Linked DNA regions of Homo sapiens. The protein of the gene in region 3 purifies or fractionates together with the protein of the main gene of each other region. This does not show direct contact. Each region holds a gene or a part of one and is shown on either strand. Other genes may lie near its edges.

Region 1 (4,132 bases), on a different chromosome or scaffold from region 3:
CATTTCTTCTCTGAAGAAATCAGAGCAGCTCCCAGAACCAAAGGTAGAAAAAAGTTTGTTTTCCCTAAAATTGCCCAATTGATCTGTGGGACAATCCCTGGCAGGCCACAGAAAAGCGGCCTTCCCAGAAGGGCAGGGAAATTGCATCCATGTTGCCAAGGAAGAGATGAATCAACCCTACGCCTGGGCTCACACCATTCCTACAACCCAACCCAACTATCAGCCTCTGGGACCCCTAAATAACCCACTCCACCCCACAAAAATTATGACGATGAGAATGATGACAAGCAGCCCTCTACTATGTTCCAGGCAAAATCACGACATCCTGCAAGCTGGTGAGAACAGAAGTTAAGAAATTTCTCACTGCTGGAGAGTGACGGGGCCAGGAATTGAACAGAGACCCACCTATCTCAAAAGGCCAGAATTATTCCCGTCTTTCAAGGATGCCCGCTCTCTGAACTGAACTGTGCACAGTATGGAGGCTTCTCTTGTGTTGCTATCTTGTTCTTCACCCGTGGATGCTGTTTCTCCCCAAGAGTTTGCACTGGAAGGGTGGGGGCCAGGCCTTCTGCGTGCACCCGCCATGGTGGCCACTGCAGAGCCCAGCACAGACCAGGCAATGTACATCCACAGGCTAAGAGTCCCAGAGCCCAAAATTCTTACTCTGGCCTAAAATACAAGGCCAATGATGCAGCTGCTCCAGCCCCCAAGTCCTCAGGTCAGTGAGTTCCTCTAGCCTCTGCACTGGCTGGCCAGCTGTCAGTCAACACCTGGATCGAATCTCCCGCTCAGCACTGCCCTCCCTCAAGGCCCCAGAGGCCAGATGAGTAAAATATGATAAATTAAGCAAGAACCTGCTTTTGGCCTGGCCCTTTGGGAAGAGACAGTATCCAGAGGACCCCCTTCCACTGTCTGGTGCCCTCTAGTCTTACCTGCAAACCAACCCCAGCAAGAGGACCACTAGCCTATCTCCTGGCTACCACACAGGTAATGGAAAACTCACCTCTCTGAGCCTCCACCAGGAAAAGGAACATGTGGCTTTTAATTCCAGCTGCTAAGTTATGATTCTGGACATCCCTTCTCTTGCTTTACCAAGGATGTATATCCTTGGGGTGGCTCCATGGGGCTCTGGGGTCTGGACTTCGCTTTTCAGGAGCTGCGTCCCGGGGGATATGCATCCAAGGATGTATATGGACAAGTTCTTGTCCATATTTAGGACTTAGGTTTTAAGAGGTAAGGATAGGCCGGGCAGGGTGGCTCACGCCTGTAATCCCAGCACTCTGGAAGGCTGAGGTGGGCGGATCACGAGGTCAGGAGATCGAGACCATCCTGGCTAACACGGTGAAACCCCGTCTCTACTAAAAATACAAAAAATTAGCCGGGCATGGTGGCACGCGCCTGTAGTCCCAGCTACTCGGGAGGCTGAGGCAGGAGAGTCGCTTGAACCCGGGAGGCGGAGGTTGCAGTGAGCCGAGATCGCGCCACTGCACTCTTGCGTGGGCAACAGAGTGAGACTCCGTCTCAAATAAAATAAAATACAATAAAATAAAATAAAATAAAATAAAATAAAATAAAATAAAATAAAATAAAAGAGGGAAGGATTACGGAATTGTATATGCTGTGGTTAAGGAGATCTAGTCTGACCGTGGTACTGACCTGACCCTCCCAAGGTCACAGGGCCAGTTAAGAGCAGAGCAGGGACAGAGGCCAGGGCTAACTCCCAGGCCACTCCTCAGCAGGAGCACAGCCGTCCCAATGGCCTGGGGCTCCTAGGGGAGAGCCACTAAAGACGTAAACCCAAACCAGGCTTGCTCCAGGAAGAAGGGTCAGGTCAAAGCTGCTCCTAACCCCACGCTTCCATTCGGGCCACAAGAGAGCACTTAGCCACTCCCCAATTGTGTCCGGAGTCCTCCTGTACAGCCGAGCCCTTTAACTGTTTAGAGAAGCCTGTCTCTGGAACCCAGGCCCTGGCAAGCACCAGATCCTCAAAAGTGAACCCCTAGTCCAGAGCTGACGAAATTTTCCCGGCTCAACTGGACCTCAGGATCAGATGATGAAACTGCTCGGATGGCGACTTTGTCCCACTGCCCTCACCCACCAAGAGGGGGCAGCCTGAACCCGACCACCTAACTTGGTCATTAAGGACCAAAAATAGCCAGAAAGCCATCCTCGTGGGCAAGCCAGGTTGGAGATTCGCTCAGCCGGAAGATTGGGTACATGTACCTTCAGAGGGGAGATGGACCGGCGGGGGCCCGGGGACGCAGCTCCTGAAAAGCAAAGTCCAGACCCCAGAGCCCCATAGAGCCGCCCCAAGAGCCGCCCCTCGGATTGGCCACCTACTGTCTGCGTTCTGCGTCCGTGTCCGCGCGGGGAATCCGGGAGCCTGGCTCAGCCTTCGGCGCGGCGACCCACGCTCTGGGCACCCTTCTGCGGCTCTAGCATCCCGCACCCTCCAGGCGGACAGGCCGCGCCTTGACCTCTCCCCTCGCCAGCGCGGCACCACGGCCAGGTGCAGCCTCCACCCAGCCGTCCGGGCGTGTGCCGGTGCCCGGGAGCGGCGCCCGGTCCTCGGCGCAGGGCTGTCCCCGCCCCCACCCACTGCCCCAGCCTGGGGTGCGGGGCTCCTCCGCCGCTGCCCATCCCGCGGCCCTTGGCGTCCCCGCCCTCACCTGGCGCTCGGAGGCGGCCTCGGCCCCGCGCAGCCTCACCGCAAGGTCCCAGGCGGCCGGCGGCGGCAGAAGCAGCTTAGCCGGTGCGTCCGCGTAGACACGCGCGCCGACCCCCCTCACTGCGTCCGGGCCCCGGCACCGCGCGCATGCCCGGCTATATACCCGGCGCGTCAGCGGCCGGACCCGCCCCCGGCCCGCCCCGCTCGCCCCGGGGCTGCCACGTGGGGCCGGCAGGCTGGGGACCTGGCCAGCCTGCGCCCTCCTGCGCCTCGCGGCCCTGGCTGTGGTCGGCGCCCGCTCCCATCCTTCATCCGGCCGTGACTCCCGAGGACCCGCAGGCTCCTCCTGCCTCCGGAAACCTCCCGTGAAGACCTGCTCCCTGGGCGCGGGAAGCTCTCACCGCCTAGCCTCCACCCCACACCCCCTGGAGGAGAGTCCTACCCACTCTATTTGAATGTGATTTTACCACTTCTGGTTCACCCAAAAAGCTTTTCTCTTCCCTCCCCAGTTCGGAAAGGTACTTCAGAAGGGGACGCGCCCTTAGATGGTGTTTCTTCTGCATATTTCCACCAGCCAAAAGAACCAAAATTTCCTGGTCGAGTTCCAAATAAACCATATTATATTCACTTTTCAGACTTGATGCCGCACCGCTTCCCACAATGATCAGACGCCTAAAGAACCCTACTAACCCAAAGTTGGGAGAAATGTTAATTTGGGGGTGAAGAAGTTCCGAGGAGACTCTTCCTCTGTGGGACAGTCCCATTGAGATGTATATCAGGCCTGGGAAATGTAGTCGATTTCTTGAGAAAATAAACCACCCTTTCCACTCCCATTGTTCTGTTCTGCAGGACATCAGGACAATTTCCTCTATGAGCTGAACCCGCTGCCACCTGGGCCTTGGGGGGCTCGGAGGAAGGGCTTTCTAGCCCAACTGTCGCGGCTTAGTACTCGAGCTGATCCTAGCACAGTGACTGGTCCCCAGACGGCACTAGCTGTCTCTAAATTTGCGCAGGGAAGGGGGCAACATCCCACTCTCTGCAGGTCTTGCGGGGAGGACCCCCGTGATGGCGGCGCTAAGGAGAAAAGGAAAGCAGACAGTCGCTGGAGCCGGTAGCAAGAACTCAGGAGCTTGCTCTTCGCCAGGCCAGAGGGGGTCAGATTCTTCATATTACTTTTGAAGAGTGTAGCTGGGCCCCGGGCGTTTCTAAAATTCAATTATCCTCACCCCGTAATTACAGTGCTGCAGTGGGTATGGGGGCAGGGTGATATTCCTCTCATTTATTTTCCAAGTGATTTCAAAGTAATGATATCTCTTGCAGAATTTCCCTCAGAGCCCCTTCATCTTTGTAATAACCCTATTTCTCTCTTGGTTAAACTCGGTGCTTTCCAGACATTATGTCATCCGTTTGGGACTCTCATCCCACTGCAGTGGGCTGTGAGAAAGGGGCCAGTCCCCGCCACAC
Region 2 (3,500 bases), on a different chromosome or scaffold from region 3:
GGCATCCCATTAACACTAACACCTAGAGAGCAGATGTCAGGAATTTAAAGTTTTGGTTATGCTTAGGATATATTATGAAAGCCATGACAAACAGAAATTCAAATACATGAGCAATTTATTCTCAACATGGGACTTTTTAAAAACTAGGGGTGGAGAGAGACTCTTAATCCTAATTTATTAATTCCAGTATCTACAAAGTTATATGATATTTTAAAACTTAACATTTTAAGTGAATTTTCATTTGACTTTCCCCTAGGTATAAAAACAATTATTAATATTTATTGATCTACACAGTGTTCACAATGCTTTAACATGTATTAACTGTCAAATGCTTGCAACTATTATTTATCCACATTCTACAGAGAGACAACTGTGACCCATAGTTCCTCACTATAATGTGTACAATGTCACAATTTCTGTCAGTGACTGATCTTGGATTTGAACCCACTTCCCTAGCTCCAAAGTCCATTCCCATAACCACTTCAAAAACTGGCCTTTGGTCTCTAGGATAAACTAGTGACAGCTTATCTAGCAAATCAAGATCTCATTTTCACTTCTTTCATAGGTTCCATTTTATTTTATTTATTTTTTATTTTTTATTTTTTTTGAGATGGAGTCTCGCTCTGTTGCCCAGGCTGGAGTGCAGTGGTGTCATCTTGGCTCACTGCAAGCTCTGCCTCCTGGGTTCACATCATTCTCCTGCCTCAACCTCCCAATTAGCTGGGGCTACAGGTGCCCACCACCATGTCCGGCTAATTTGTTTTCGTATAAGTAGAGATGGGGTTTCACCATGTTAGCCAGGATGGTCTTGATCTCCTGACCTCGTGATCCGCCCGCCTCGGCCTCCCAAAGAGCTGGGATTACAGGCATGAGCCACCACACCCAGCCTGTAGGTTCCATTTTAATAGAAATTCAACCCAGTAAGTACATACTTGAATGCGTTTTTCATCATCTTCCCTTTTCTTTCTCTCTTCTTCTTCTTGTTTTCTCTTTGCTTCCATCTCAAGTTTCCTAATAAAAAATAGAAAACTCTTCAAAAATTTAACAGAAAATAAAGAATCCTTCAGAAGGCAATTTAACTATTATTTAATAATAAACAAAGGTAACAGATTGGGAATGCAAATTAACCTCCTGGCCACATACATCAACTTATTTTGAATAAAATAAAATTTAACTCTATTGACAATAATTCTTAAATAAAACAAATATAATTATATTCTATAACTTTTAACATCTCTAGATGAATGTGGTTACAAAGCCTGGCTGTAAGGTCCTGATTAAAGGTGCTTCCCTCTAGTCCCTCTCCAAGTCAACAACTCATCTGTTCTCTCTACCCTATCATGGCAATCTTTCAAAATGTTATCAGTTTTAAAACTGCAGAAAAGTAGAAGTGTCATTTATCTAGCTTAGAAAACAATAAACAAATCATAGTTTTAAAAAGAAGAAAATCCTCAGGTGTAAGAGGCTAACAAATTCAGATTATAGTTAAAATTATTTTATGGTATCACTATTATAAAATGACCTTATTCTCTCAATTTTCAAACTTATTACAAAATTAGTTCATTAAAATAAGAACACAGTTTTAAGAATTGTCAACCGAGCACGGTGGCTCACGCCTGTAATCCAAGCGCTTTGGGAGGCCGAGGCGGGTGGATCCCCTGTGGTCAGGAGTTTGAGACCAGCCTGGCCAACATAGTGAAACCCCGTCTCCACTACAAATACAAAAATTAGCCAGGCGTGGTGGTGCGCACCTGTAATCCCAGCTACTCAGGAGGCTGAGGCAGGAAAATCGATTGAACCCGAGAGGCAGAGTGCAGTAAGCCAAGATCGCGCCACTGCACTCCAGCCTGGGCAACAGAGCAAGACCCTGTCACAAAAACAAAACAAAACAAATAATTGTCATTAACCACTGTCAATACCAAGAATTCACTATTTCTTTAAGTCTCTTATTCAAAATAATATAAATGCCTCACATCCGCCTTTCCTCCTCTTCCTTTCTTCGACGTTTTTCGTCTTCTTCACGTCTTTTTCTTTCCTTTTCCATTTCTTCTTGAATACGCCTCAGCCTTTCTGCTTCCTCTTCCTGCTGTTTTTTTTTCTGTAATGCACTGAGGAGTTCCTCTGAGCTTTTAACCAGTGCATCATATTCTTTCTGGATTTGTTCCTGCGTCATCATAGTGGACTTTAAAAAATAAAATAAATAGGTACGTAAAAGCTTATTTCTTCTGTTGCACAACAATGTGAATATACTTAACAATACTGAATTATAAACTGAAAAATGGCTAAGATAAATTTTAATGTTTTTATTGTTTTTTACAATTTAAAATAAAAAACTACTCCAATATGCAAATACAGCAAAAACTAGGTAAGATGGTAAGCAATACGTCCGTTATCTTTACTATACTGTTTGTACATTAAATACTATTCAAAAAATGTTTTATGTTATCTCTGCACACAAGTATTACACATCAATTAGACAGGTAATCTGTGGATAAGGTAATATACTGCAGTTAAAAATTATTTCTAGGCCGGGTGCAGTGGCTCACACCTATAATCCCAGCCCTTTGGGAGGCCAAGGTGGACAGATCACCTGAGGTCAGGAGTTCGAGACCAGCCTGGCCAACATAGTGAAACCCTGTCTCTTATAAAAATAAAATACAAAAATTAGCTGGGCATGGTGGTACACACCTGTAGTCCCAGCTACTCGGGAGGCTGAGGCAGGAGAATTGCTTGAACCCGGGAGGCGGAGGTTACAGTGAACCGAGATCATGCCACTGCACTCCAGACTGGGCAACAGAGCAAGCCTCTTATCTCAAAAAGAATTATTTCTTAAGTAATGATCAGCTAATTTAGCAATAGTTTACTACTATTTTAGAATAATGTTCAAATAGTACCTAGAGAATATTTTAAAAATTACAAAATATATCCAAAATTATTGGATTTCTAAAATTAGCCTTCAAAAAATGTGGGTGGGTTAATTTTAATTTATAATGATACCACATAAACAAAGATGGCCCTTGACAGATTTATAAAATCAGCTGAGTCTATTTATAGCATTTTCATTTTCCTCCAGATCTTTTTTTTCCTTTCTACCTCCAAGATTGCCATTGTTTACATAAAATATCTGCAGAAAATATAAAACGCTCACTTTAAGATATTCATTATATCCCACATACTTGCACTGACCTATGAAACTGAGAAAAAGCATTAAAACTCTAAAATATAATGAGAAGATATGAAATGTAATTAATGAAATATGAAATATAATTAACAAGCATATAGAAAAGTCTTCAACTCCACTAGTAATCAAATAAATAAAAATCAAAACAAAATAAGGGATCCCATTTTTTTCCTACAAAATTGGAGAGGAAATTGCTATTTTCACAAAATTAATTACATTATCGTATCTATGAAGATAATGTATTAACATGGACAAGTATATAACAATGGTAGAGATAGAAATTGAAATGTATATTATGATAAGAACTGTAAAAATGTAT
Region 3 (2,796 bases):
ATGGGCCCTGGGGGCTGCATCCCTGGGGTACCTGACTTTGAGGTGCCACCGGGCAGAGCCCATCACTGGTGCAGGAGCAGGGGAGGGGATCCAGGGTACCTGGGATGCTGGCAAAGATCTCACTGATCCCAATGAGCAGGTACTGAGGGATCTGCCACCAGATGGACAGTGGTGCCGCGTTGTACAGGACCTCCCCAATCTGCTGGGACACGGTCTCGTTGTGGTGGATGTAGTGTAAGCGCTCCATCTCCAGGACTCCTGGTGGAGGAGCAGAGGGGGATTATAGTCAGGCCCACCCCAGGCAGCTTAGCCCACAGAAGAGCTTGTACATGGTGGGGATGGGGTACTCATGAAGCAGCCAAAGATTGAGCAGCAGGCAAGGAAAAGAATGCTGGACTGGGGGGTGGAGGAGGGGGCCAAGATGTGACCAACTCCTCCCTTTTGGTCTTGGCTGCTAGAAGCTCCAAGCTGAGTTTTGCACTCAATAACACTAACAACTCTCATTAATGGAGAACCTGTTATGTGCTAGGCATTTACCATGCATCCTTGCTGCGGAAGAAAGTGAAATAACTAGCACTTTCAAGTGCTTAACTAGAAAGTTAAGCAACTAGCCCACAGTCACACAGCTGATAAGTAGTCAGGGCTGGATTTGAGCTCTGGTATGTCTGGTTTCAAAGCTGGCCTACTTTCCATGATATCACATGACTTCTCTACTGCAACGTCAAGTATTGCTGTAGTGTTTCTAACCTGGCTTTCAAGTTTAACTATGTTATCTCCTTCTCCTGTGTTGCTTGGGAGATAGCTGTGCTCTAGTGGAATGAACATTGGACATGGAGTTGGGGGACCTGGGTTCCCAGCCTGGCTAGCTGTGTGACCTTGGGCAAATCACTTAACCTCTCTAGACTCAGTTCCCTTACTCAAGAAGCAGGAATAACATTCCCAGGATTATTGTGAGGATAAAATAGGACAAACTGCTTTAAGGATATAGCTGGAATAAAATCTAGTTGGGTTTTCACACTTTCAACACAATACCGTTTATGGAGCTTTCATTTCTCCAGCTCATACTTGTGATCCAGGCACACTACTGAGTGCTTTACAGACTTCATCTGCTGTAATCCTCACAACACCCCCCATCAGACTGAGTTCCACAAGGGCAGAGCCCTGCTCAGGGTCCGAATGACACCTGTCCCCATTTTAAAGACATAGCTCAGAGACTCTAAGGAACTTCAGGGTCATAAAGTTACTAAGTAAAAAGGGTTCAGGTTTGTGCAACAGTGTGAAAGACTTCTTTAGCTGATCCCCCCCACTGCCCCCACCAACCCCCACTTTGTAACAAATGGCTTCAGATCCTTTTGAAATGGAAGAAGGAAGATAATTTTTTTTTAAGTCTTCATTTGCCACTAAGTGGAAAATTCATTCAACACATTTATGGAGGGCCCACGTGCATGTTCATAGCAGTGAATAAAAAAAGAAAAACTATCTCTGCCTTCAAGGAGCTGATAATTCACTGGGGGAAAATATTTGTTCCTCTCTCGGCCTGAGTTTCTTCTTCTGTCAAAATGAGGGGCAGCTGGATTAGATAGGAGGGTCTCTTTCAGCTTGCACCTCTGGGAAGCCAACACTGACGCCCACTGGGAGAGGCTGAACTTGGTCCAGGCTACCACTTCAGCATCAGCCCATGGTGGAAGCAGACTTCCCCAAGCCCAAAGTTCAGCCCCCTGCCCCACACCCCTCTGCACACCTGCCACAATGACGGAGGTAAAACCAAAGAACATCCCCAGCGCCATCTTCTGCAGAGCAGAGGGAAGCAGCTTGCACCGCAGCAGTAAAGGGTCGATCAAGCGGTCCTTCAGAGGGACCAGAATCAGCACCACCACAACATTGGCCAGGAGGAGCCAGGCTTCCGGGATCTGGGCAGGAGGAAGTCAGGAGAGGCAGGCTAGCAGAGTGCAAGGAGCCTGGCTGCAGTCAGGAGACCTGGACTCTAGACTGGCCCTGGGTGACCCTGGGGTCCAGCTCCTTTCCCTCTCTGGAGTTCATGCTCCTCAGCTGTGTAACCAGGGAGTGGGATTATGTAGAGATGGCAAATAGGTTCCTCTTGTATTCTAACTTTTATCAATTGGTAGTGGCTGATTATGGAACATTTATGGGCTCAGCATAAAAAAAGTCATGATTGACTAGTGATGTCTGCCATGGGCAAGGAAATGGACTACAATGGCAAATTTCTCATATATCTGCCAGCTCTGCAGATCATTCATTTCATGAGTCTGAAATGCCAAGGAACTGGTTTAGAAAGTTCTGGGAAAGGCAGAGATCTAGGTATCTAAGGGTCCCAGAGAAAGAGGGGACAAGGAAGAGTTGAAAAGGGACCTAAGTATGCTTGATCTGAGGGTGCAAATTAGGCAGCGAGACCTGCTTCAGAGCAGCAGCATGGGGGTGTGCAGCTGGCCTGAATTCCTTCAAGCAGTTGAGCATCTTGGCAGGATCCCTGCGCTGTGACACAAGTCCTCCCACCCTCCAGGTGCTTTTCCTGTATCCTGAGGTTGCCTTGCAGGCAGGAAAGGGGAGTGTGAAGGCAGTTTCATTTCCTCCTCTTCTCAGAGGAAGCCGCTACCTGGCTGAACTGGGTGCCGAACACATGCTTTATCTCTCACCGTGTAGCTGCTGCCCTGGGCTCTCAGGGCCACAGAGATGTTGGCCGGGTTGGCTGGGAAAATGTTTGGGATGTGGAGGTGAAGACCCTGCAGGACATAGGTGGACTGCATCTGCCAAGAGAGACAGGGGTGAGGCTGGAAC
Region 4 (3,500 bases), on a different chromosome or scaffold from region 3:
CTAATTCCATGAAAACAGCATGCCATGTACTTTATGACACAGGAGAAAATTTCTCCTCTAATCTTAATGTACAGCTTGATTACAATCGGTCCTCACCTGACCCTTTGTGCTGGCCATGGTCTGAAGCATTTAGACACCCAGCAATAATTATTGGAAAGCTCTAAGGCTAATTTATGTCATTAGAAAAAAGCTGGACATAAGGGTGTTTTGCAGGCTACGATAGCTGTCAGTGTCAAAGGCCAGGACTTAGAGTTAACATTCTGTAATTAATCCTATCATTTTTTAGCCTAAATAGAATAATGTTAAAATAGTATTATTTATTATAATAGAATAATAACTCTACCTCTTTTTTCTTTAAATTTTTTAGAGGGAGACTCGCACCTGATCACTCAAGTAGTCCCTTCAAACTATCCCCAGCTTCTCCAAAGCTACAATGAAACAAACTGAAACTCAATCAGTAAATATTTAAAAGAGCTTTAAAGAGAAAGGATATCCAGATTTAAGAGCAAAAGAAAAAACAATGTTAAGTTTCTTACCTAAAATAAGTAGCAATGCAGAGAATTACCACCAACATAGGATAATATATATAGAATCCATCTGCAATAAAGGATAAAACTTTCATGGAACCCATAATCTGAAGAGCAAGAAAAAAGTAAGTTAAATTGGAATAGCTCTATAATTTCCATTCCTTTCCATCATTAGAAAATTTGCCTATAACCAGTTATATCAATCCATTTGAACTTTTTAAAAAGTAGAAAAAAAGCAGTAAATGGACTTATTTTTTAAAATCTGCTTTTTATTGAGGTTTTCTCTTAAAGAAAATTAATATAATTATTACTCAAAATTATCACATACATTGACTACAAATATAAAGTTAATATTAGTATAGGTCAGTTCTTTTGATACTGGTCAGCTAGACAACATATATGAACCAAAAAAAACATTTTTATCATAAAAGAAGGAAAATCACTTTTATCTAGTCAATAGTAATACGTATACAATCTTTAAGAGAAAATTTTACCAATAACACTATAGAACTTTTCTGCTGGCATTAAAAGAAATTTCACAATAACAGCACCTCATATAGATAGTGAACCTAAGGAATTCTATTTTCTGACCGTACTTACAGATGTATAAGCAGTTGGTTGAGTATTCTTGTGAGAGATAGATGAATCCATATGGGTCAAACCCAAGAAATTAAGACATAAAGGAGGTGTCAAACGGCAAAATAGCCTGCAACAAACATTTAAAAATATGTATATAAAAAGTAAAGCAGCAAAATACATTTTATAGTATACTGAGATGTATTAAAAACATTTCAGATAATTATAGCTAAAATTTTCATCTATTTGCTTTATATATATATTGAATTCTTAATGTGACCTGCCCTCACTTACTTGGGAGATATTCTGAAAATTGCCACATCAATGCCTACGTGACTACAGCCTCAAGCTCCTTGCTTTTATGGTTTCTGCCATTGCTTTATCCCCACAAGTTGTGGAGTGCCTTTGTATCATCTCCTACAACTAAGCCATCCGTAAAATCCATCTCACAGCATGACAAGGACAGTAACATCCTCAAGGTGAATTGTATTCAGTACATAAAAGAACTGAAGTTGTATCAACATATGTCATTCTGACAAGCACAGATATAAAGTTGTTCAATTCTGTCCAAATAAAAAGAATGCCTTACAAACCCACACACTTGGATAATTGGGGCTGGGGAGAATAAAGTGTGGGTATGAATTAAAAAAAAATAATATGAGATAATTCTTTTGTGGTGATAGAACTGTTCTGAATCCTGATTGTGTTGGTGGCTACAGGAATCTACACACACACACACACACACGAATGAAGGATAAAAAATGGTGAGAACTAAATAAAGTCTGTAGTTTGTAGTTAATAGTAATGTTTTACTCTCATTTCCTGGTTTTGATATCACTGGGGGTAGCGTGAAGGTTACATAGGACTTTTTGTGCTACATTTGCAACTTCCCATGAGTCCATAATTATTTGGAAAACAACAAAAAAGATGCTTAAAAATACTTTGGATGTCAACTCCTCTATAAAATTATCTAAGTTCATCCTTTATAAATACCTAATAGGACTCATTTAACAATAAGAACAGGTAATAGATTGTACAATCTTGCCCAACTTGAAGACATCTCTCTAAATCCTCTCTGAATTCCTCAGGAAAAATTGTTCTTGTTGGTTTTCTCAGTCCTCCTCAACTCAGTGAGAGACCGCTGAATCTTAGAACACCATCTAGGTCTGACTTAGTCTCTAAACTGTCCATTGTTTCTACTGCTTGCTAATCTCTGGTTGGTAAATCCGGGCTCACTAAGTATGCTTCTTCTGCCTTCTAGCCTAACCTAGCACACCTATTTTAACCTTAAACCTCAAGCAGGAAGTAGCTGGCAATCAACAAACATCAATTTAATATTTGAAACTAATCAATTAGCTGATAGAAATATAGATGTTAGTGGAACACCTGTAAACAACAAAAAATAAAAGATCCATAAGAATACACTCAATGATGACATTTCTCTTGTTTCTAAACATAATCCTACTTACATGCCACTGAAAAGAAGGCTATAAGCATCAGTCTGGTGATGTGAGGCCAAATAATAATAGTTAAATACACGAATCCTGAACACAGTAGAATAAACACAGATACTTAGGAAGAAGATGGAAAGGAAGCAGGCAATCTGGAAAAAAACAAAAACAAAGCAGTTTGTTTAAAACAAACAGACTTTAGCACTTAACAATTACAGGCATTATCCTTCATTTCTTTTTCTTTTGTTTTTTTGAGATGGAGTCTCGCCCTGTCACCCAGGCTGGAGTGCAGTGGCGCGATCTTGGCTCACTGCAACCTCCACCTCCTGGGTTCAAGTGATTCTCCTGCCTCAGCCAACTGAGTAGCTGGGATTACAGGCATGTGCCACCACGCCCGGCTAATTTTTGTATTTTTAGTAAGATGGGGTTTCACCATGTTTGCCAGGCTGGTCTCAAACTCCTGATCTCATGATCCATTCGCCTTCGCCTCCCAAAGAGCTGGGATTACAGGTGTGAGCCACCACGCCCAGCCTGGCCTTCATTTCTAGCTAACATTTATTGATGCTCTAAAATTGAAATACAGTAATAGAGAATTTTTTAATCACCCACTAAGATTATGAAAAAAACCCAACACTTCAAACTGTTTAACATCCTAGATCCAAAAGTTTCGAATCTACCTTCTAATGTGAGCCTGTTTTCCCATTCCCTTGGCAACTCTTCACATGAGGCCTATAAGTTATGTAGCTTTACTGGCATAAATATAATCAAAGTATTCCCAGGGCCAAGTGTGATGGATCCTCCTGAAGCAGGACGATCACTTGAGTGCAAGAGTTCCAGACCAGCCTGGGCAACATGGCAAAATCCTGACTCTACAAAAAATACAAAAATTAGCAGGGGATGGTGGTGCATGGCTGTAGGCCCAGCTACTTGGGAGGCTAAGGTGAAG
Region 5 (3,500 bases), on a different chromosome or scaffold from region 3:
CGCCCATCTCGGTCTCCCAAAGTGCTGGGATTATAAGCGTGAGCCATGGCACCCAGCCTCACATAGGAAACTTCTTAGAGCAACTTAAAGTTGTTCAACTATGTTATACGTCTTTCTTATGTTTTACTAAGTCTAGTACAGTAAAACATATACAATTAATTATTATTAAAATCACCTTAAGAAATACTAAAAACAAGGCCAGAATATAAGAAATAAAATATTGAGAGCCTATTAACAAACTCAGCTTGTGAGTGATTTCAGGGAATGGAAAGTTGAGTCAAAAAAAAATAGGAAAGATTTTAACAGCTTTCTGTGGATTTTATTATAGATTTTATGTGGAGTAATCCACAGAATATGTAAGACTAGTAGGTACTAGGCACTCAAAAAATGTTTATCATACATATACTTCTGAATAGTTGTCAAGAAAAAAGCAATTTTAAACATGGCTTACGTTACACAGAAATTACCTGGTTTAAGGGCCATCATGTGACCTGAGAAGTTTTGACAGTTTGATCTATACAGACTATGAATGCTAAACTCTTCTACCACATTATAATCCTTTGTCTATCCTTAATAGATATTCAAGTCCTCAAACATACCTTACCCTATGCCTGCACCTTTTGAATGTTCTCATTAAACCAAGGGAAGTCTTGGAACCTCCTTATTAGTCTGCCTTGCCAAGCTGAAGGTATGTAACAATACATATCTATAGTGCAGATAAAACAAGAATATACTAGAATGTGTCTGCTCTGAAAAAGCATCCCAGCTCAAATAAGTTTAGAAAACAATAAATCAAAGCTAAACAACTCTTGTAATGAAAGGACTTCTCAGAGCCCCTAATTTGCTGATCCATACTAAGGGTATTGGTATTTAAAATTATTTACCTGTAAAGAACTTTTTTCCAAGACACACTAAGCAGAGAAAAGCAATAACCTCTACACATATTGGTTCCAATTTCTTGCTCTGGCTCATAAGTATATTCTTTCAAAACTACCCATATAATCACAGAAAAATGTTGTACACCCACACATAAATGTGTACATATTACCAGATGCAAAAGTTTCAAACCAATAATCTGAACTCTAAACATAAGTAACATAAGTAAACATAAACAACTCTAAAACATTAAGGTAGCTCCATATCCTCTGATTGACACATCAATACCTCCTCTTGGATCGTTCTCTGCTCCTATCTCTAGAACTGTGCCGACTTCTCTGGTGGCTACGGCTGCGGCTACGGCTGCTGGAGCGGGACCTGTGGCGATGGCGTTTCTCCCGAGATTTGGATCGAGTTCTCCTCTTGCGTTCACGTGACATGGAGCGAGATCGATGTCTGCGATGCTCTCTGGACCTGGATCTACCAGACAAGATTTGATTTTGTTTCTACCTTTGTAATTACTATATTTCTCATTTATTAAAGCCTTTTCTTTAAAGAGAAACTTTTTTTCAGTAGTCTTAATGTCAATTATATTCCAAGTCAGCTAAATCTACACTGAATTGCTGGTGTGTTAATAACTACATACTAGAATTCAAAATAAAACATTAATAATTCTCAGCCAGGCGCCGTGGCTCACACCTGTAATCCCAACACTTTGGGAGTCTGAGGCAGGAGGATCGCTTGAGCTCAGGATTTCAAGACCAGCCTAGGCAACATGGCGAAACTCTGTCTCTATAAAACATACAAAAATTAGCTGGACACAGAGGCACATGCCTGTAGTCCCAGCTACTCAGGAAGCTGAGGTGAGAGAATCTCTTGAGCCAGGGAGGTCAAGGCTGCTGCAATGACCTGGTGATCACATCGCTGCAGTCCAGCCTGGGCAAAAGAGTGAAATTCTGTCTCAAAAACAAGACACTGATTGATAATTCTCAGAGAGCAATCAGTAATGTATAAATTTATTATCAGAAATAGTTTTTCAAGTGAAAGCAACTTTTGAACCACTACTATATGCCAGGGGCTATATTATCTAGATTTGTTATGAATTTAATTGCACTTAAATATCTTGAACATTTTTGTATCCTCTAGAAATTAAATATGTACCTGACAGACCTGGACAGAAGGGAAGAGAAGAGATGAGGAAGAATACGTCAGGACAAATTACTCTTTGTCTGAATTAGAAAGGTGAGATAACCATAGAAGTAAGTTTTTAATGCCCACAATATGCATGTCTAGTCACAGTGTAATCAAAACAGAGTAAGGGCCAGGGGTAGTAGCTCACGCCTTTAATCCCAGCACTTTGGGAGGCTAAGGAAGGATGATCACCCAAGCCCAGGAAGTCAAGGCTACAGGGAGCTGTGTTCACACCACTGCATTCCAGCCTGGGCAATAGAGAGCAAGACAAAACAAACACAGTAAGACAGTTCTCTATTCAAGGAGCAAACAGTTTGGGAGAAAGAACACTTGCGAAAATCATTTTTGAGAACTTGACTCAGATTGCAAAAAAAATGTATTTCTAATGAATACACAGAAATAGAGAACGAAAAACATTCTGAAAAACCAGAAAATATACGATCAAGGTGCTGGCAAAATAAAGACATTTTTTGAAAAGAAAAAAACCCACAAGGTAAGACACTTTTATAGCCTCCACCAGGTCACAAACTAACTTGTGGGGTGGGTGGGGGTGCATGGTGAGGGTGGAAATGGCATGGAGAGGACATAAACGTTTGACAGAAAACAAGGGGAAACAAAGGAATGCAACTTTGTTAGAAGAGTCACTTTAAGAATGATGGAAATGTTCTCAACTGGATTATGGTGATAGTTGCACAGCTTTAAATCTGCTAAAAAATCACTGACTTCAGAGTAAATCATATATATATATATATATATATATATATATATATATATATATATATATATTTTATACCTCAATAAAACTCTTAAATTTAAGTCACTTTAAGAATGTGAGGTTTGCTCATAATTTGATACAGCAAGTTCAAAATCATATTATACATATGAGATAGTTTACAAATACAGTTTATCTTCAACTGATTGTTATGAACGATGCTAAAAGGCATTCAGCTTATGTCAACATTATAGTCAAAGAAAGGTACATGACATGGACGTAGCTTTAGCCACACTTAAAAAGAGTATTTCTGGCTGGGCACAATAGCTTGTGTCTGTAATCCCAGCACTTGGGGAGGCCACAATGGGAGGACTGCTTAATCCTTAAACGGGAGGAGTTCAAGACCAGCCTGAGCAACATAGGGAGACCCCGTATCTACAATAAATTTTTAAAAATTAGCTGGACATGGTGGCACACGCCTGTGGTCCCAGCTACTCAGGACAGAGTGAGACCCTGTCTCAAAAAAAAAAAAAAAAAAAAAGCGTTATTTCCACAGCTGAAAAGAGTAATTCCAAAAGGAAGCAGAGGGAAAAAATATAAAACTCTCAGTGTAAGTTTTATCAAATCATACTTCGTTTAACCACTCATTTTGAGTTATTATGAATGCCATTTCTTCCAATGTATAACTTTATTCATCTTTTTAAAAATTCTAGGTAATTTT
Region 6 (3,500 bases), on a different chromosome or scaffold from region 3:
CCCCAGCTCCAGTGGCAGGACCCAAGCAAAACCCCTCACTAGCTAACAACAGTCAGGCTGGCTCTCTAAAGCAGTCTTTCTACCAAAGTCCAAAAGTAAGGGCTGAAAGGAAACTAGGACTCCACCCTTTACACTGGGACTTGAGGTCTGGGTCACGAACTGAGTCACAGCAACAGCCAACTGAAAACCACATCACCTGTAAGCGAGGCGAGCCCGTCCCGATCACCCAAGTCAGAAGACGCAGCATGGCCACGCGAGGCAGCAACTCCGGGCCATTCTAGGAGAGAACGGCAGGTAAGTCGAGATGAGGCTGTGGGGAGGTCTGTAACCCAGGCGGCCAACGGCAGGGCATCCTCTCACCCACGGGGGAACATTCTGGATCATACAACCGGCCCCACCACAGAAACCTCATTAAGTTTACAACTAGGTCCACAGGTGCTAACCCCAGTCAACCATGATCCTCAGGAACTAAAAACTAAATTCTGAAACTTGCTTGAAATTCACACTATGAAATCCAGAAAGACCGTAAATATATGAAGAGACACTCAACTTTAAATGAAATGCAAAATAAAATGAGATTATCATTCTTTCACTCATCACTGACGATATTAATACTATCTGAGGTTGCATTAAGGCTTTGAGAAAAGAAAACTCTTGGTGAGAGTATAGCTCAGAATATGCCATATAATCTAGTAATTCCATGTCCAATGAACCTGTCCTAAAGAAATGCTCACACTGGTTAAGTAAGGGGCATATACATACAAGAGGGCACATCACAGTGCTGTTCAAAACAGGAAAAAGTTAGAAACAACCTTAAGAACTCATCAACAGGTAAAGAGTTAAGTAAAACATGGTACATCCATAGCACAGAATCTCATGCAGCCAACAAAGTCAATCAGGTGAACTGACATGTACTGGCATGGCAGGAGAGCCAGAGTCTACAATCACATGAAAGAAGCAGTCTGACCCGTTTTTGCCTTAAAAAACCCACAACACTGTGTGAGGCTGCTGTTGGTATAAACATACACTCTCTATTTCCCCACCAGGAACTGTTCATGAGACAAAACGTGTCCACAGGCCCTGCCTCCCTGATCCCCTTTAAACCAAGAGGAGAGCAGAGCTTCCCTGCCAACCTCGTCCACCCGCCCGGGTGGGGTGTTGGGGGAGGCCCTCAGCTGGGCTTGGACAGTGAGGATCTGAAGAATCTGGGCCATCCACTCCTCCTCCTCCTCACTGTGGTGGGGCATCTCCGTCAGCACCATCTTCAGAAACGGGAAGACTAAGGAGAAGGCTGGCGCGGACAAGGGCGCAGCACCTGTGAGAGCGAGAAGCAGATAAGATTCTGCAGGCAGGGCAGGGACCCGGGCCACTGCTGCCTATTTCTATCCTCAGGGAAAGTAGGGAACGGATGGACCAGAGGCCCGTTCTGACACCTGGAAGCACATGGCACGAGGACAGAGACAGCAGCTGGTAGTCCAGTTCTAAAACCAATTCTGCTTCTACTGCCAAACACTGCCCAGTTCCAGGATGTGAGAGTTAAAACAGAGATGGGGACACCAGTGACAAAAAGTAAACCCTCAACTGGGCTCACTGCAATTCACAGACTACGAAGGTTCAATTCAGAAATCCTCCATATGGTCCAATCCCCCAGGCTCAGGAGGCCCTGGGTGACGCTGTGCCTTGAGCAGCATTCCTGGCACCAGCTCACACCGCCTGGTGCCCCTGATCCCGTCCCAGCCCTTACCTGGCTCCCCCTTGCCCACCCTGCTGGTGATGGTGTGGGTGTGCAGCAGCATCACCGCCCTCTTCACAGCCACCGACAGCTCTTCCTGGCACCAGGACTTATCCAGGACACACTCTGGCTTCAGCAGGCGCAGGGTCACGTGGCTCACCAAAGTGCCTGTGTTGAAGAGGAGAGACCCAGCAGGAGATGACACACAGAGATGTGGAATCCAGCCCAGGCTAAAACAGGGGACCCAGTGCCTCATCCTTCTGACTTAAAAAAATATTTCTGCGGCTGGGCGCGGTGGCTGATGCCTGTAATCCCAGCACTTTGGGAGGCCGAGGCGGGCGGATCATGAGGTCAGGAGATTGAGACCATCCTGGCTAACACGGTGAAACCCCATCTCTACTAAAAATACAAAAAATTAGCTGGGCGTGGTGACGGGCGCCTGTAGTCCCAGCTACTCAGGAGGCTCAAGAAGGAGAATGGCATGAACCCGGGAAGCGGAGCTGGCAGTGAGCCAAGATGGCGCCACTGCACTCCAGCCTGGGTGACAGAGTAAGACTCCGTCTCAAAAAAAAAAAAAAAAATCTTTCTGCTTCGCCAAAATGTCCCCAGCCTAATTTCTCACTTGATCTTTGTGACAGCCTCAGAGGGCAGGTAGGCAGAGAGTTGCCCTTTGGACATTTAAGAAATGAGTACGCTGACAGGAGACAAGGGCCACCAAAGAGTCATTCAGCCAAGAGTACAGCTCTATCTGTGCAGCATCTCCACCTCTACGCAACAAGCCCAGACAGCCAGGTGACACTTCTGGCAGGTTTCATATGCACCAGCTGACTTTTCCACTCAGAACAGTTCCCAGATTCTAGCCTCACCCGTGGGAACATCACCGTTAGGCCAGGATAGAAGTCTGCTGAAGGCCACTAAACAACCCACAGAAGCAAGGCCACCAGAACTGCCAGCCACCCTACCTGGTGTTTGTTTCTCCAGAGCTAAGAGGAAGCTAAAGGTCTCAAGGGCCTCTGCTCACTGCTGTCATGTGGCTGTTCAGGAGATCTGGGCTGGGCTGAGCCACCAAACCATCCTCACTGCCACTGAACTTCTGACTTCTTAGTTTTAAAACTGGTATACAAAGATCGAACACTGACTAGCATCTAAAACCTACTCCTCAGAGGGAGGGCACAGATGTGAAGTGGGAGAGAAGAGGAGGCACTACGTCTCTCCTAAGCATATCCAGCTTGAGTCTCCAAGGCTGCTTCCACAAGAAAACAAAACTCAGCAGCTGAGGTCACCACCCACCTCCCCACAAGCACTCAGGGGCACACCCTGTCCAAGCACTCAGGGGCACCCCTGGGCCATCCCTGCAGCCAGCAAACAAGGACTAACCCAAAGCCTTGAGCCTAGAGGGCATGACACAGGCAGCCAAGGACAAGAAGGGGTTCTTGATCCTGGGAGCAGCCAGGGGAGACTTCAGCAAGGGCAGAAAAGAGTCGACCAAAACAGGGATGTACTGGGTCAGGCCGGACGGGTTCTTGGCCAGGATGATGTCCAGCAGTCCAAGCGCCGCCTCCAGCTCCCCATCCAGCTGCAAGCAGAGTTGTCCAGAAGGCAGGTCAGCAGGGCCCTGCTTGTGACAGCAAGCAGCAGGACCAAGCTGCCCAGCACTCTTCCGGCTTGAGCATGTGGCGGAGGTGGCCACTCACCTCCTGCAGCCGCCTCCGGACCTGCGCCTCCCTGTCTAGCTGGGCCTGCAGCATCTCCTTCTGCTTGCTGGTCA
Region 7 (2,552 bases), on a different chromosome or scaffold from region 3:
GAGAAAAACATGGCAGATTTTCTTCTGTTTTTCTTGGGGCAAAATCAGATTTTACTGTTTAATAGTACAAAATTTTTGCAAAATTAGCAGATAATACTCATCATTTCTAACTTCTGAAATCTTTTGTTTAGGTGAGACATGGAATCCATTAAAATTGCATTATCAGTTAAGAAATGTACGGGAACGATTAGCTAAAAACCTGGTGGAAAAGGGTGTATTGACAACAGAGAAACAGAACTTCCTACTTTTTGACATGACAACACATCCCCTCACCAATAACAACATTAAGCAGCGCCTCATCAAGAAAGTACAGGAAGCCGTTCTTGACAAATGGGTGAATGACCCTCACCGCATGGACAGGCGCTTGCTGGCCCTCATTTACCTGGCTCATGCCTCGGACGTCCTGGAGAATGCTTTTGCTCCTCTTCTGGACGAGCAGTATGATTTGGCTACCAAGAGAGTGCGGCAGCTTCTCGACTTAGACCCTGAAGTGGAATGTCTGAAGGCCAACACCAATGAGGTTCTGTGGGCGGTGGTGGCGGCGTTCACCAAGTAACTCTGCTCGGGGTGAACCATTCTCCTTTCTCTCAAGTAAACCAGTAGTTTTTCTTCTGTTGACTTCTGGTTTTCTGTAATTTGTACTTTCCCACACTATAATTGGCTTCTGTTTTACAAAATGGTGGGTGGCTTTTTCTTTTTTGTACGTGTACAGGATTCTGCTGGTACGAGAGGCCTTCCTCTTTCTGTTTTTAAAAAAAGTTTTACTGCCATATTGGCATTCCATTCCCTGTTGCCATCCTCACTGTTACCTGTTTTGGGTTTCTGGTCTACTTTGACTTTCAAAGTACCTCCAGCCTCCTCATACGCACAGCTTTTGGATGACCTCAGCTTGAGTTTCTCCATATGTGCATGTACATCTAGCATTCTGCCTACAGTTCAGACAGAAGTCACAAAAAGGCCTTCAACTCACCAAAGGTAAATATCTGTATCTATTAGGACATTTTTTACATAGACTTCAGTTGAGATGTATACTTAGCAAAATTATTTTTAAATTGAAACAGCACAGTAAATACTTAATATAAAATGTCCCTTGGATTTTGCTTCCCATGTAAATCTATTGTATTATTACACTTGTTATAATTTTAACTATAAAGGTCCAATTGTTTCACAGAGCCAGTTTGGGATGGGCTGCATTCCATTTATGCTGTATATAGTTTGAATTATATATAAATTACCCCTTCTTCTGGCCACCCCTGCTCCCATCTTAGTATTTTGCAAGATCTAATCAGTTGTACACCTGGTGCCCCTCGCTTGCTTCAATCATGGTTATTTGATGGCAAAATCGACCTCTTGTCGCTGAAGGAGAGAGAAAAGATGTGTGTCTGATTGGTCCTGGGATTTTTTGAGCTGTGCCATTTATGGTACTCTTTGCCTATGCATCCCCTTGTTAGATTTTTTTTAAATTTTATCTTACTGTTTTTATAATTTCTATTGGGAAGAGGCTTGTGACCAGTACCAATCTTGAGTTTCTTTTTCTGTCCACAAGTAAATTAATATCTGCTCTGAAATGTCATTTATCTACTCACACATTCTTGGGGAAAAAAATCAAATGTCAGTCCTAGCAGATGTTGCATGTAAATTGGTAGCAAGTAATGATTACAACCCAGAGGATTAAGAATTTTGTAACAGAAAGCTCTATGTTTTAATTTTTTATATACAATTAGGATAATTAGCATTGTCAGACTATAAACCTTTGCTTTTTAAAGTTTATTTTTACTATTTCTTTATCACTTTATTGTATCATCACCATTGGTTTCATAATGTAAATACTATATGTTGAACAAATTAAATGTCAAAATTTTTTATTACCATAGTCCATGTTAATAGTGGGGCTTTCAGGTGTTTAGAGATTTTTTTTGTTGTTGTTAACATTCATTGCAAAAGTACTAGATGGTGTATAACTCTAGAGTTGAATTTTAAGGGATTCCCTAATATGTATACTATCTTTTTATCTGAAGTAATAAATAAACAATGATCTTGAAAGTGCCTGAATCAGAGCAAGCATGTCATTTGTGTTTTTGTATTCTCATTTAGTTTTCTTTCAAATGAAATGTTACTTACTGTAGCATTGTAATATTTTAATGCAGGGCTTGGGTTTCTTAAAGGGCCAGATAGTAGATATTTTAGGCTTTGTGAGCCGCCAGCTGTGTCAGTTGCAACTACTGAACTTTACTGAATGAAAACTGTTATAGATAATACAAATAAATAGGTTAGACTGTGTTCCAATAAAACTTTATTTGCAAAAACGGGGCTGGTCAAGGCCCCAGTTTTAATGCATGGAAAAAAGACAGATTTTTCTATCCATTGGAGTAACCTTCTTTACCTTCAAAAATGATACTGCTGGTGGTAACTACATGTAGGAACTATTAAAGTGTCTTCCCATAAAGTAGATATTGGGAAACTGATACCAGTATACTGGAATTTCTTATCGAGTGAAAAGTTCCTGTTTTTCACTTGAGAAGATGTTAGAGGTGAGGTAATAGATTTCTGAG

What was found.
Region 1: the proteins of SLC15A3 (region 3) and SLC39A14 purify together in Homo sapiens (affinity purification with mass spectrometry; 2 studies listed by BioGRID and IntAct, with this or other methods). This does not show direct contact.
Region 2: the proteins of SLC15A3 (region 3) and MYO6 purify together in Homo sapiens (affinity purification with mass spectrometry; one large-scale study listed by BioGRID and IntAct). This does not show direct contact.
Region 4: the proteins of SLC15A3 (region 3) and LMBRD2 purify together in Homo sapiens (affinity purification with mass spectrometry; 2 studies listed by BioGRID and IntAct, with this or other methods). This does not show direct contact.
Region 5: the proteins of SLC15A3 (region 3) and LUC7L2 purify together in Homo sapiens (affinity purification with mass spectrometry; 2 studies listed by BioGRID and IntAct, with this or other methods). This does not show direct contact.
Region 6: the proteins of SLC15A3 (region 3) and GCN1 purify together in Homo sapiens (affinity purification with mass spectrometry, with the first as the bait; one large-scale study listed by BioGRID). This does not show direct contact.
Region 7: the proteins of SLC15A3 (region 3) and GOLPH3 purify together in Homo sapiens (affinity purification with mass spectrometry; 2 studies listed by BioGRID and IntAct, with this or other methods). This does not show direct contact.

Annotation. Positions count from the first base shown.
Region 1 is NC_000008.11:22,365,946-22,370,077, reverse strand, and holds the start of SLC39A14 (metal cation symporter ZIP14 isoform a precursor), read right to left. Parts: upstream 2,801-4,132; 5' UTR 2,670-2,800; intron 2,541-2,669; exon of another isoform or gene 2,341-2,540; intron 1-2,340. UniProt on the Homo sapiens protein: Electroneutral transporter of the plasma membrane mediating the cellular uptake of the divalent metal cations zinc, manganese and iron that are important for tissue homeostasis, metabolism, development and immunity.
Region 2 is NC_000006.12:75,888,739-75,892,238, reverse strand, and holds part of MYO6 (unconventional myosin-VI), read right to left. Parts: intron 2,183-3,500; coding exon 1,974-2,182; intron 1,012-1,973; coding exon 933-1,011; intron 1-932. UniProt on the Homo sapiens protein: Myosins are actin-based motor molecules with ATPase activity. Unconventional myosins serve in intracellular movements. Myosin 6 is a reverse-direction motor protein that moves towards the minus-end of actin filaments.
Region 3 is NC_000011.10:60,939,381-60,942,176, forward strand, and holds part of SLC15A3 (solute carrier family 15 member 3), read right to left. Parts: intron 2,766-2,796; coding exon 2,655-2,765; intron 1,911-2,654; coding exon 1,742-1,910; intron 259-1,741; coding exon 100-258; intron 1-99. UniProt on the Homo sapiens protein: Proton-coupled amino-acid transporter that transports free histidine and certain di- and tripeptides, and is involved in innate immune response. Also able to transport carnosine.
Region 4 is NC_000005.10:36,113,888-36,117,387, forward strand, and holds part of LMBRD2 (G-protein coupled receptor-associated protein LMBRD2), read right to left. Parts: intron 2,707-3,500; coding exon 2,573-2,706; intron 1,234-2,572; coding exon 1,128-1,233; intron 635-1,127; coding exon 537-634; intron 1-536. UniProt on the Homo sapiens protein: Recruited to ligand-activated beta-2 adrenergic receptor/ADRB2, it negatively regulates the adrenergic receptor signaling pathway. May also regulate other G-protein coupled receptors including type-1 angiotensin II receptor/AGTR1.
Region 5 is NC_000007.14:139,415,394-139,418,893, reverse strand, and holds part of LUC7L2 (putative RNA-binding protein Luc7-like 2), read right to left. Parts: intron 1,433-3,500; exon of another isoform or gene 1,357-1,432; coding exon 1,165-1,356; intron 1-1,164. Other genes in the region: FMC1-LUC7L2 readthrough protein, read right to left, coding at 1,165-1,356. UniProt on the Homo sapiens protein: May bind to RNA via its Arg/Ser-rich domain.
Region 6 is NC_000012.12:120,156,716-120,160,215, forward strand, and holds part of GCN1 (stalled ribosome sensor GCN1), read right to left. Parts: coding exon 3,427-3,500; intron 3,309-3,426; coding exon 3,110-3,308; intron 1,901-3,109; coding exon 1,745-1,900; intron 1,316-1,744; coding exon 1,134-1,315; intron 278-1,133; coding exon 197-277; intron 1-196. UniProt on the Homo sapiens protein: Ribosome collision sensor that plays a key role in the RNF14-RNF25 translation quality control pathway, a pathway that takes place when a ribosome has stalled during translation, and which promotes ubiquitination and degradation of translation factors on stalled ribosomes.
Region 7 is NC_000005.10:32,124,216-32,126,767, reverse strand, and holds the end of GOLPH3 (Golgi phosphoprotein 3), read left to right. Parts: intron 1-131; coding exon 132-556; 3' UTR 557-2,052; downstream 2,053-2,552. UniProt on the Homo sapiens protein: Phosphatidylinositol-4-phosphate-binding protein that links Golgi membranes to the cytoskeleton and may participate in the tensile force required for vesicle budding from the Golgi.